Linked DNA regions of Homo sapiens: region 2 is linked to region 1. Evidence: fine-mapped expression QTL. A gene starts in region 1. The other region holds a variant in brackets. All regions are shown on one strand. Distances are from middle to middle. Region 1 holds the start of EXOSC6 (exosome component 6). Region 2 has its middle 20 kb from the start of PDPR.

Region 1 (5,376 bases):
TGGTCTCAAACTCCTGGACTCAGGCGATTCACCAGCCTCAGCCTCCCACAGTGCTGGGGTTACAGGAGTGAGCCACCATGCCCAGTTAAAAATACACTTTTTATTTAAAAAAAAAAGAGAACACTCCTTATATTTCCTTTATATTTTGTAAACTACATACCCAAAATAAAGCATATCAAAAACTGTAAAAAAAAAAAAAAAAAACCCTAATATCAGATATTCCAGACACAACAATACCATAATTTAATCACTTAAAATCTTACTCAAAACTAAATCAATGATCTTTTAGGCCAGGTGTGGTGGCTCATGATAGTAATCACAGTACTTTGGGAGGCCAAGGCAGGAGGATCACTTGAGGTCAGGAGTTCAAGACCAGCATGGCCAACACAATGAAAATCCATCTCTACTAAAAATACAAAAATTAGCCAGGCTAATGGCACACTCCTGTAATACCAGCTACTTAGGAGGCTGAGGCAGGAGAATCGCTTGAACCTGGGAGGCAGAGGTTGCAGTGAGCCGAGATCATGCCACTGCACTCCAGGCTGGACAACAGAGCAAGACTCCGCATCAAAAAAAAAAAAAAGATATTTTAATATATTCAGATACACAAATATGAAATAAAACTAAGTAGAGCTGGTATTCATTTACACATAATTATCTTATACCGTTTGGAATAAGAATTTGGGGCACGTTAGCAAACCAAAAGGCTCAGAAAGACGTCGTGATATTTAGTTCTTGTCTCCCTCTACAAATGTGAAGCACTCTTCTATCCGGCATTCCTAGTGGAGTTCCTATTTTCAAATTTGCAAATCATTCTGGTGCTAAGCAATCTCAAAAAAAACATTTACTAAAAACCAGAGGAAAAAAATCTTATAACTTTGGGAGGCTGAGGCAGATGGATCACTGAGATCAGGAGTTTGAGACCAGCTTGGCCAACATGATGAAACCCCATCTTCTCTAAAAATACAAAAAGTTAGCTGGGTGTGGTGGCAGGTGCCTGTAGTCCCAGCTATTCCAGAGGCTGAGGCAGGAGAATCACTTGAACCTCTGAGGCGGAGGTTGCAGTGAGCTGAGATCGCGCCATTGCACTCCAGCCTGGGCAACAGAGTGAGACTCTGTCTCAAAAAATAAATATAAAAAAATAAAAAGCTGCTATTCTCCATTAATACCTGCAGGCCCGACAAAGGCAGCCTAGGAATTCTAGATGAATGGAATGAATACAACTTGCTGGAAGTTCTTAGGAAACAAAATGACTATTCACAGAACCAAATAAAAGCCTTCCACTAGAAACTAAAAATAATAATAATAATAATAATGGTTTTATATATATGCATACACAAGCAAAGCCAGAAGAGAATAAATAGCAAATGAATGAAAACTAGAAGCAAAAACAAACAGGAAACCATCTCTACATTTTTTTTACTCAATCGACCCTGAATGCTACAGCATTATCCAGGGCCGCAGAAAACACACATAATACTTTATTCCTGATAAACAATTCGATGTCCTTAAGTCCGCCAATATCACCGTACATTCTGTGCAATCAAGAAATTTACTCAGCTGGGCACAGTGGCTCACACCTGTAATTCCAGCACTTTGGGAGGCCAAGGCGGGTGGATCACCTGAGGTCAGGCATTCGAGAACAGCCTGGCCCACATGGCGAAACCCCATCTCTACTAAAAATACAAAAATTAGCCCGGTATGGAGGCATGTGCCTGTAATCCCAGCTACTTGGGAGGCTGAGGCAGGAGAATGGATTGAACCCAGGAGGCAGAGGTTGCAGTGAGCCAAGATTGCACCATTGCACTCCAGCCTGGGCAACAGAACAAGACTCCATCAAAAAAAAAAAAAAAAAAAAAAGAAAGAAAGAAGAAAAGAAAATTAGCCAGGTGTGGTTGCATGCACCTGTAGTCCCAGCACTTTGGGAGGCCAAGGCAGGAGGATCAATCAAGGCTAGGAGTTTGAGACTGCAGAAAGAAACCCTGTCTCTAAAAAAAAGGTCCAGGTAATTTCAGGGTCCAGCTCCACCACAAGCGCAGCTCCAGGGGCTGTTGAGTTTTGCCTTTATCATTCCAAGTAGTCCCTGCTCCAGACCAAGTCCCACCATCTGGCAGTCAGGTCAGTCCAACCACAGTCATATCAGGGCCCTTCCAGGAATTCTCGACGCAAACTGGAGGCCGATGGCGCGGGTCTTTTCGTGGACGGCGGCAGCACGGTCCTCGGCTTGCGTCCGTAGTTGCTCAGGCTTCTGGTTCAGGGCTGGGCGGCGGCGCCCCTGCGGCGGGCGGCCCGCACCAGGCTCTGCTGCAGCACGGGGTAGAGGCGCTGGCAGCCCTCGAGGCCCAGGCGTACGGCCTCCGCCCAGCTCTCTGTCAGGCCGCCCTCGCCGCTGCCCAGCAGCCCGGCCACCTGATTCAGCACAGGCATGAGCGCCACGGTGAGGCCGGCGGCGGCGCGCTCTTCCTCGAGCCGCGTGGGGTCCAGGAGCCAGGTGGGCGCGGGCCCCGGCGCGAGGCTGAGGCCGCAGCCCACCACCAGGTCGTACATCTCCACGCCCGCGTCGGCCAGGGCGAGCGCGGCGGCGGTGAGCGCGGCGGCCAGGGCCGAGCCACCGTCCTCCAGCAGCAGCGCCGACACCTCGAGCTGCGCGCGCGGGTAGCGGCCCAGGCGCACAGCCGGCTCCAGCGCCTCCTGCAGCGCCAGCGCCAGCTCACGCTCCTCGCAGCCGCCCGGGGGAGCGCGGCGCCGGCGGCCCGCGAAGGGTGCGCGGCGGAAGTCGCAGAGCAGGCGACCGCGCAGCGCGGCCGGGGCCTCGCCGCCTGCTCCGGCCGGGCCGCCGCCGCGCTCGCCGCCCTCGGCCTGTCGCGGGCCCGACACGGCACACAGCACCTTGGTGCCTCCCGCCTCCAGGTAGGCCGAGCCCTTGGCCTGGCTCAGCAGCCCGGCGCGCGCGTACACGGGCCGTAGCCGCGTTGGGTCGCGGGTGCCGGGCGCCTCCTCCTCGTCGGCCGCGTACAGCTGCGGCGGCTGCGATTCTTCAGGGCCGCGGATGCGGCGGTGATCCCCAGGCATGGCGGTTCTTGGCGTGCGAACCCCTTCCGCCCAACGCCCTGCCGCATCCACTGGTTCTTCCGTTGTTTAAAGACGCGCGGCTGCGCATGGGCTGTCGAGAGAGCGGCGGGAGGCACTACAGCGCCCCTGGAGGCCCGGAGGGAGAACGGCCCGGTCCCAGTTGTGCAGGGTAGCCGGATCCATCCATCTTGCTGGAAGGGAGGGGGGAGAGCAGCTCCAAGAAAGGCTTCTCTGCTTCCAACTACCTCCACCCCTCATCTACTGAATTATGAACGCCTTGCTCCAAGTCACCCCACCTATTTGGCCTCCACCTCCACAGACGTTTGAGGCAGCCCTAGGGGCTGTTCCCAAAATTTTGGGTTCTGGGGCTGGACTAGGTGAACACCACAGCAGCCAGCAGGAGCCACAGCATTTATTCTACAGACGCCAAAGGCTGTCAAAAGAGCCAGCCCCTATTGGGAAGAGGGATAGAGATCATGCGGCATTAAGTATTGCACGTGGTCCTTTTATTCTCTGCAGCAAAAACGATTCCTACTTGCTGACGCGGAAAGCTCAGGTCTGGAGAGCCGTTATCTATAGATGCGAGCGTGACGATCAACAGCAATGCGGGGTTAGTGGTTCTAGACCGATGGCACTGACGTGGAGGGCTCAGGGCAGAAATTTAAGGGGCACTGAGACATAGGACTGCTCCCAAGTGTGTTCCAGTTACTGCTGGGTTAGGAGGGGCTCTTTAAAGGTCCCAAGATTCAAATGTTCTTGTAGCAGATGAAGAGCTCTTGGCTGGACGGATGGATCCAGTGGGAGCCTCCTCCTTCCCCACTCAGTTCTTTACATCCCCGAGGCGCAGCTGGGCGAAGGAAGTGGCCAGCTGCAGCGCCTCCTGCAGGCAGCCAACGTTCTTGCCTGTGGCCTGTGCAGACACATCCTTGCCACCACCTTTACCGTCCATCAAGCCTGACACCTGCTGCACCCACTCGCTGGCTTTTAAGCCCCGATTGGCTGCATTCTAGAAGACAGGAAGGGAAGGGGGAGTCAGCACAGAAGATGGGATTGAGGGAGGAATGCAGGGAAAGAAAGGATGGAGGAGCCATCACCCACTCCTTGCCCTGGGTGATACTGCTGGAGGCCGAGACAGACTTTACGGCTGGTACAGGGGGCGGCCATGGCCACTGCCAGGACAGGACAGAGTGGCAAAGCCAGGTATCAACCAGATGTCTTCACCAATAAGAAGGCCTGGGTAAGGGGTACTGGCAAAGGTAACCAACCGGTGGGCAGAAAGGCTGTTTCGAATGCAGGCTGTACACACACAGGCCTCAGCCAACAACCTTAAGACCTAACACTTCCCACTGGTGCGAGGTGGTGCTGACCTGGGGAACTTGACACAGGCACGTGATCTTGCCAGCCTCATTGTCCACCGTGAAGAGCATGGCAGAAGTCTGAGGGGAGTGCATCTTGAAGAGCTTCAAGGCTTCATTCAGGGCCTGTGGGGAGGACCTGGCTCAGGCCACGGTGCTGGAGCAGGGACCCTCACTAGTGTGAGCATTTGCAGCCCTCAGAAGGCCTGCCACCCACCCCTACCCCTTCCCAGAGCAGGGGCTGTGCCCAGGGCCTGTGGGGAGGACCCCAGCGCCGGGCCCTGCCCCTACCCTGGCCCAGGTATGCCTCCCACATGCAGGGAGCTGCTGCTCCTCCCAATCTCAATCCCAGACCGTGGGCCCTTAGGCAACCACTTCGCTCAGAGCCACAGAGGCCACATGTCAGCCACCAGAGAGCTGATGAGCCCTAGGGGAGGGGACCCTGGCCCCTGGGTTGCCTTGGCTGAGGCGCCGCTCTCCATCTCCAGGATGACAAGAGGCTGGTTGGGGTTGCTGTCGATGAACTGCTTCGTCTTCTCTAACACCTGCAAGAAAAAAGTCCAGAACAGCAGCTCAGACCAAAAGCCCAGGCCCCGAACCCCTGGCTGTTCTGCCAGCCTTTGCCTAGGAAACACTCTGGCCACTGGTGCTGCCAGGACTCACTCGTTTCTGGACATCGGCTTTGCTGGCTCGGTCCAAGTCATCCATGACCTTCTTTAGGGATTTGAGAGTCTCCCGCAATTCATCCTTCTGCCACTGGGGGATGACTGCAGTGGCCAGGGCCTGGAACCAATAGACGACCATCTCAATCTGGGCCACAACTTGCTGGGATGTCAGGGTCCAGCCCACCCCACCCGAACCCAAGTCCTCCCTGACTAGTGTCCTGGAAAGGAAAGCAAGGAAAGCTTTGAGACCAGTCCCTTTAGGAGCAGCTGTGGCAGGTGAAACA
Region 2 (5,376 bases), 160 kb before region 1:
ATATAAAATATATATATATAATATATATATATAAAATATATATATATAATATATATATATAAAATATATATATATAAAATATATATATATAAAATATATATATATAAAATATATATATATTTGTATTTGTTTATTTTTTCACTCACAGGTCAACCATGAACTATATTCTTATTTGTTATTTTTTATTTCCTGCTTTGGGCATAGAAGATGAGAAATTATACTAATTTGAGTGTTTCCACTTGGTCAGTTTAACTAGTGTTAGAGTTTTCTTAAAACTAAGATATAATTTGACTTCTCAAAGTAAAGTTTGGGGCAGAGCATCTTCTCTAGAGAGATGGATCTTTCTGTCAGGGAGTCAGGAGTTACTCAGTCTTTTTTGGGAGATGGAGGGAGGTCAACCATTAGGTCCAAAGCAGTGGTTTTGAGTAATTAGCGATTGCTGTGTGTTTTCATATTTTCAGAATAGGGATATAACCTCACTGAAGATGACATAATTAGTACTTGACAAAGCTAAAAGTCCTGTCAGTATATTTATACCTATGCGTAAGTATGCTCTCTGAGTCATTCTGCTAATTCCCACTGTAAAATACGTATACCCTTTTATTTTATTAGAATTAAAGGGCTTTGAGGAGATTTTTCATTTTAAAGGTACAAGACAAGTTTTAACGTCAACATAGCCCACTCACTGTTCTATATTTATGTGAGACCTTTTAAGAACCAGGGATAAATGGGCTCTAATTTGTCTGTGAGGGTCTTGCCCCGTCTATCTTTAAAACTTAACGTGTTCCTATAGGAGTAACTATATAATATTTGACAACTGTTATCCCACCGTCCACTTGGGAAGCACACAAGTAATAAAAGTAAATCAAATTATGACACTGTGTTTAGCATGACATCTTAATTTGAACTATGAGAAACCATTATTGGACCAATGTTGGATTTTTACTAAAGACTTGTAGTTGTCCTAGCACGTATTAGGAGATGCCAAATGAATAAGCCTAGGAGTGATTGTCATGGGGTCCCTCACTTTCTCAGCCATCGGCACAGAATGTGCCTTTTCAATGCCACCCACAGCCTAGTGCTCCACCTTTCACAGCCTACCTCTCATCTGCCTCAACCTGCACACAGCATCCTTAACCAAACCACAACCGCCTATAAGACTTAATTCAAATGTACCCTCCATGAAACTTTCTCTGACTGACTTTATTGCCATACTCATCTCATAGGGTTAGTGGTGCTTTCTTCCTTCTTTAAAATATCAAGTCCTCCTTTCCCCCTAAAAACTCCACATTCAGCCTTGTATGATGATTAGATATGCACTTGAGAGCCAGCTTCTGTATCTCATGTCTTTTTAAGAAAAAAAAAAAAAAAAAAAATCTCAAAATCTCCCGTTGGACCTGTACAGTAACTCCTTTTTGAAAAGGTAGTTGAATGTTAAAGACTTAAATAAAAGCAGCTACAACTCTTTAGTGAATCAGAACATTGTTGGAAGGCGTAAAGCCTGTGCTGATCACTGTCCTTTTGGAAAAACAATACTCAACCACTATCCCTGGGTAAAATAAGAAAAATAAATTCTGATAGAGCCAGAATAAGGCACTAAGAGGAAAGCAGTTCTAAACCTGAGGATTGAGATTGCATTTAGACTTGCTCAGGAGAGTTTCCCGGGGGTAAAAGATTGGGTTTATTTTGTTAGAGACCAGCTACATTATCTTCATTGTCACTGGGGCTTTGGACAAGGTTAATAAATGAAGTGTTCGTGTGATGGGAAGTTACTGGGTTCTTAATGAATAAACTCCCAGAAGACTTGACTTAATACTGCAGCAGAGTGTCTCCAATTGAAAGGAGGCATTAGGTTATCGCGTGACTTCAAATTTTTCTAAGGCTGTAAAAGCACTGATACTGTTGGCATCTTTTGTTTGTTTTCTCCTGAGGGATTCAAAAACAAAGTCGGTTGTCACTTAATTTAGTACCAGGTATCTTAGAAAAAGGACCCTATTCCTTTATGTGATCTGATGTAGTTCAGCTTCAGTGGAAACTGTAGAATGTTCCATATTTTAGACAACATCCAACTCCCAAGCATTTCTGTTTCAGAAACTGGGACACCTTCCAAGATAGCTTTATGAATCCTTTAATTTCTCCTGCCAGACTCATTAACTCAGCCTATTCACCTTGGGGAAATCATAGTTCCAAGACTTTCTGTAAAAACCTTCCTCCTAAGTGAATGCGGTAGTTGATTTGAGAACATTCAGACTCAAGCTTTTCAGTAGTTTATTCTGAAACCTGTTTGTTGTGACTTTGACTAGGAGAGATTAAGGTGAAACAGTAGTAACCATCATAATATACAAATTATCTACATTAAAAAAACTTGAAATTCAATAAGTACATTTTTAAATTCCACATCTCAGATTTTATGGACTCATAAAGCTGGAAAGAACCGCAACCAATGTTTGACCAGTATTTCTTAATTTTTTCTTGTCTCGTGGATCTTTTTGAGATGGTGATAGCTGTTGTGGATATTCTTCTCAGAAAAATATACATACACACAAATGCTTGCATTCAATTTCAAGACATCTCAGACTCCCAAAGCCTGTTCATGGATTCCCACTCTAGTTCAAAGCCTGTTGTTAGGGGTTTAGAGAAGTTAAGTGATGTACCTAAAGTCACACACTTCTATTGCTAACTACTATAGAAAAGTGGCAGGGTTCTTTTTTGTTTTCTGTTTTTTGTGAGGTTTTTTGTTTTGTTTTGTTTTGTTTTTTAACCATTTCCTGATACACTCATCATGTTCTTTATTGAAGTCAAGCAGGTGTCTCCAAGTACTTGGTGCTTTTCCCTTTACTGCCTTTGCTGTATCATTTATACAGCATTACCCAAGTTCCTTCTCTGTTTTAGTCACTGATGCATTGGGATGGGGATGTGCTAAATCTCTTCATTTTCTCATTCTTCCATTTATAATAGTTTACTTATTGATACTAATATATGCAATGTCAGGAATCACTTCTCTCATATTTGGTCATTAAATTAGCAGCTATTTATTATACTTTTCATGACTTTTTTTCTTACAGTTTTCCATAGTAAGAGGACAGTTTTATTTCCAATGAGTAAACACTTGATGTAAGAGATCCTTCTTTTTGAAGCCCAGACTTCTATCTCCAGAATAAGGAGTAGCTGATAATGTGACATAGCTCAGCTTCTAATTTGATGCCTCCACAGGCTAGGAGCCAGCACTTTGCCCCTGGTTTGAAGAATGCAGGTAGAGGTAGGAATCTTAATGATGATAAGAAGTTTTTTTCCTCTATCTTGGTCATGTTCTTCCTATCATTTGAAAAATCAGTAACCATTCCCCCAG[T/C]AGATACATACTCATAAAATATTAGTTACACCCATGTTATATGCATTATAAAAATACGTTAAAACATAAATTAAAGGATAAGCTTTTTTAAAAACAGAAGCTCTGTTATTTTCTTCCTGACCCCCAAGGGATCATGTAACTTCTTCCTTGAGGAATCACTCCACTCCTTTTTGGAGACCACTCTTCTAATTCTTTAGGCCTATCTCAAGTCCCTCCTCTTGCTTGTTTGATTTCGCTATTTTAACTGTATAACTGTATTGTAAACAACTTGAGATTAGAGACCAGATAGAATGTTGTCTTTGTATCCTGCAACAATGCCTAGCACAATTTTGAGTTCATCATCATTATTCAATATATACTTGTTGGCTAATTTCTTGGGATCATCTCAGAGCATTATTTCACTAATTATTACCAAAGAGGAAGAAAAAAAATCCTCAATTTTATCTTATTTTAGTAATTCTGGGTGTTATTCCTCATGCTATTCATCTTCTAGGATTAGAGACAAGTGAGCCTGTCTGCACTTAAAGTTTTGTGGAAATAGATGTACTATATCTGATGAAGTGGTTTAATTGGGACATAATGAGAATGGTGCAGTGTGAGAACCAAACCCGAATCAGCACCCGCATCTGTTTTCGTTCCTTGAGATTTCTGTTCATTGGTTCTTTATCACATGACTGAGTGCTGAAGCATAGTGTTTTCTTTTTATTTATTTATTATTTTTATTTACTATCTCGAGTTCATTTATTCTGACATTATTGATGCACCCACCATTCCCAGGGTAGTATAAAATACTCCTTTGTATTTTATATTTCGTACTCTCTCTTCTCTTCCTCTAAATCACCACTGTGTTCTTGGATTCTAAACACCCTTCTAAATTTCTGAAATTAGTTGTCACAATTATGCTTAACAATTCTTCATAGCGATTTGGTTCCACGAATCTCAAAGACCTAACATCATAACCTTGTTTTTACGGCATTCCTATTCTGTCATCTTTTCTTTCTGCGTAGAGAAACTAAACCTAGGAAAAAGCTGGGCATACTGGCTCATGCCTGCAGTCCCAGCACTTTGGGCAGGTGAGGCAGGAAGATCACTTGAGACCAGAAGTTGAGATCAGCCTAGGCAACATAGCGAGACCCGGTCTGTACAATAAAATTTTAAAAAATTAACCAGCTATCATGGCACATACCTTTAGTCTCAGCTACTAGGGAGGCTGAGGCAGGAGGATCAGTTAAGCTCAAGAGGTGGATGCTGTATTGAGCCATAATGGTGCCACTGCCCTTCAGCCTGGCAACAGAACAAGACTCTATCTCAAAACTAAATGAATGAATGAATGCAAAAATAAGACCCATTTATAGTCAGTTGCAAATCAAGATAGCAAAAGAGATGAAAAGCAAGCACTGGTGTCCAGATTTGCACTTTCGTGTCTCCATGGATTATGTCATTTCTTCATGAAAGGTACAGTAGTGCTCTGTGCTTTCCAATATAATTCACTAATTTTAGATCATAGCTGTTACAGGTTCTAATTTAAAGGCTTTGATATTTTTATTTTATTTGTTTGATAGATATATTAGTCATTTTTTCTTCATAACAGACACCCTCAAACTTTCATGGGCTTAACTTGAGGCTTGTTTTTCTTGCCCATGGGTTATTAGAGATGGCTTTGCTTCAGGCTACAGGTTGAGGGTTAAGTTCAGGTCTGCTCCACATGTCTCTTTTCTTTGTACTACCATGTTCTCATGGGGAATGGCAGGGGTGCAGGAATACAGGCCAAACTACCCAGGCACATTTAAATCCTCTGTTCATATTGTATCTTCTAAAACTCCATTGGCCTGAGCATGTCAGTGGCCTATATTATATTATGTTACATTAACAGTATTACAGGCCGGGCGCGGTGGCTCACGCCTGTAATCCCAGCACTTTGGGAGGCCGAGGCGGGCGGATCACGAGGTCAGGAGATCGAGACCATCCCGGCTAAAACGGTGAAACCCCGTCTCTACTAAAAATACAAAAAATTAGCCGGGCGTAGT

What was found. PIP is the estimated chance that this variant, and not a neighbour inherited with it, causes the effect.
Region 2: its variant is the best candidate, but not a certain one, in a credible set for the expression of EXOSC6 in sun-exposed skin (GTEx, PIP 0.67).

The regions. Positions count from the first base shown.
Region 1 is chr16:70,248,829-70,254,204 of GRCh38, forward strand. It overlaps EXOSC6 (exosome component 6), which reads right to left and starts at 3,112. Exons shown (of 1, transcript NM_058219.3): 1 at 1-3,112. The coding sequence starts at 3,072. The coding sequence ends at 2,254. AARS1 (alanyl-tRNA synthetase 1) reads right to left here. Exons shown (of 21, transcript NM_001605.3): 18 at 5,091-5,210; 19 at 4,886-4,972; 20 at 4,440-4,553; 21 at 3,470-4,078. The coding sequence ends at 3,893. RefSeq lists silencers at 2,319-2,638, 2,769-2,858 and enhancers at 3,239-3,288, 3,329-3,518, 4,153-4,653.
Region 2 is chr16:70,092,132-70,097,507 of GRCh38, forward strand. No RefSeq gene overlaps it. Among named protein-coding and RNA genes, the nearest start is that of PDPR, 20 kb to the right of the region's middle. The variant T/C (reference allele first, on the strand shown) is at 3,350.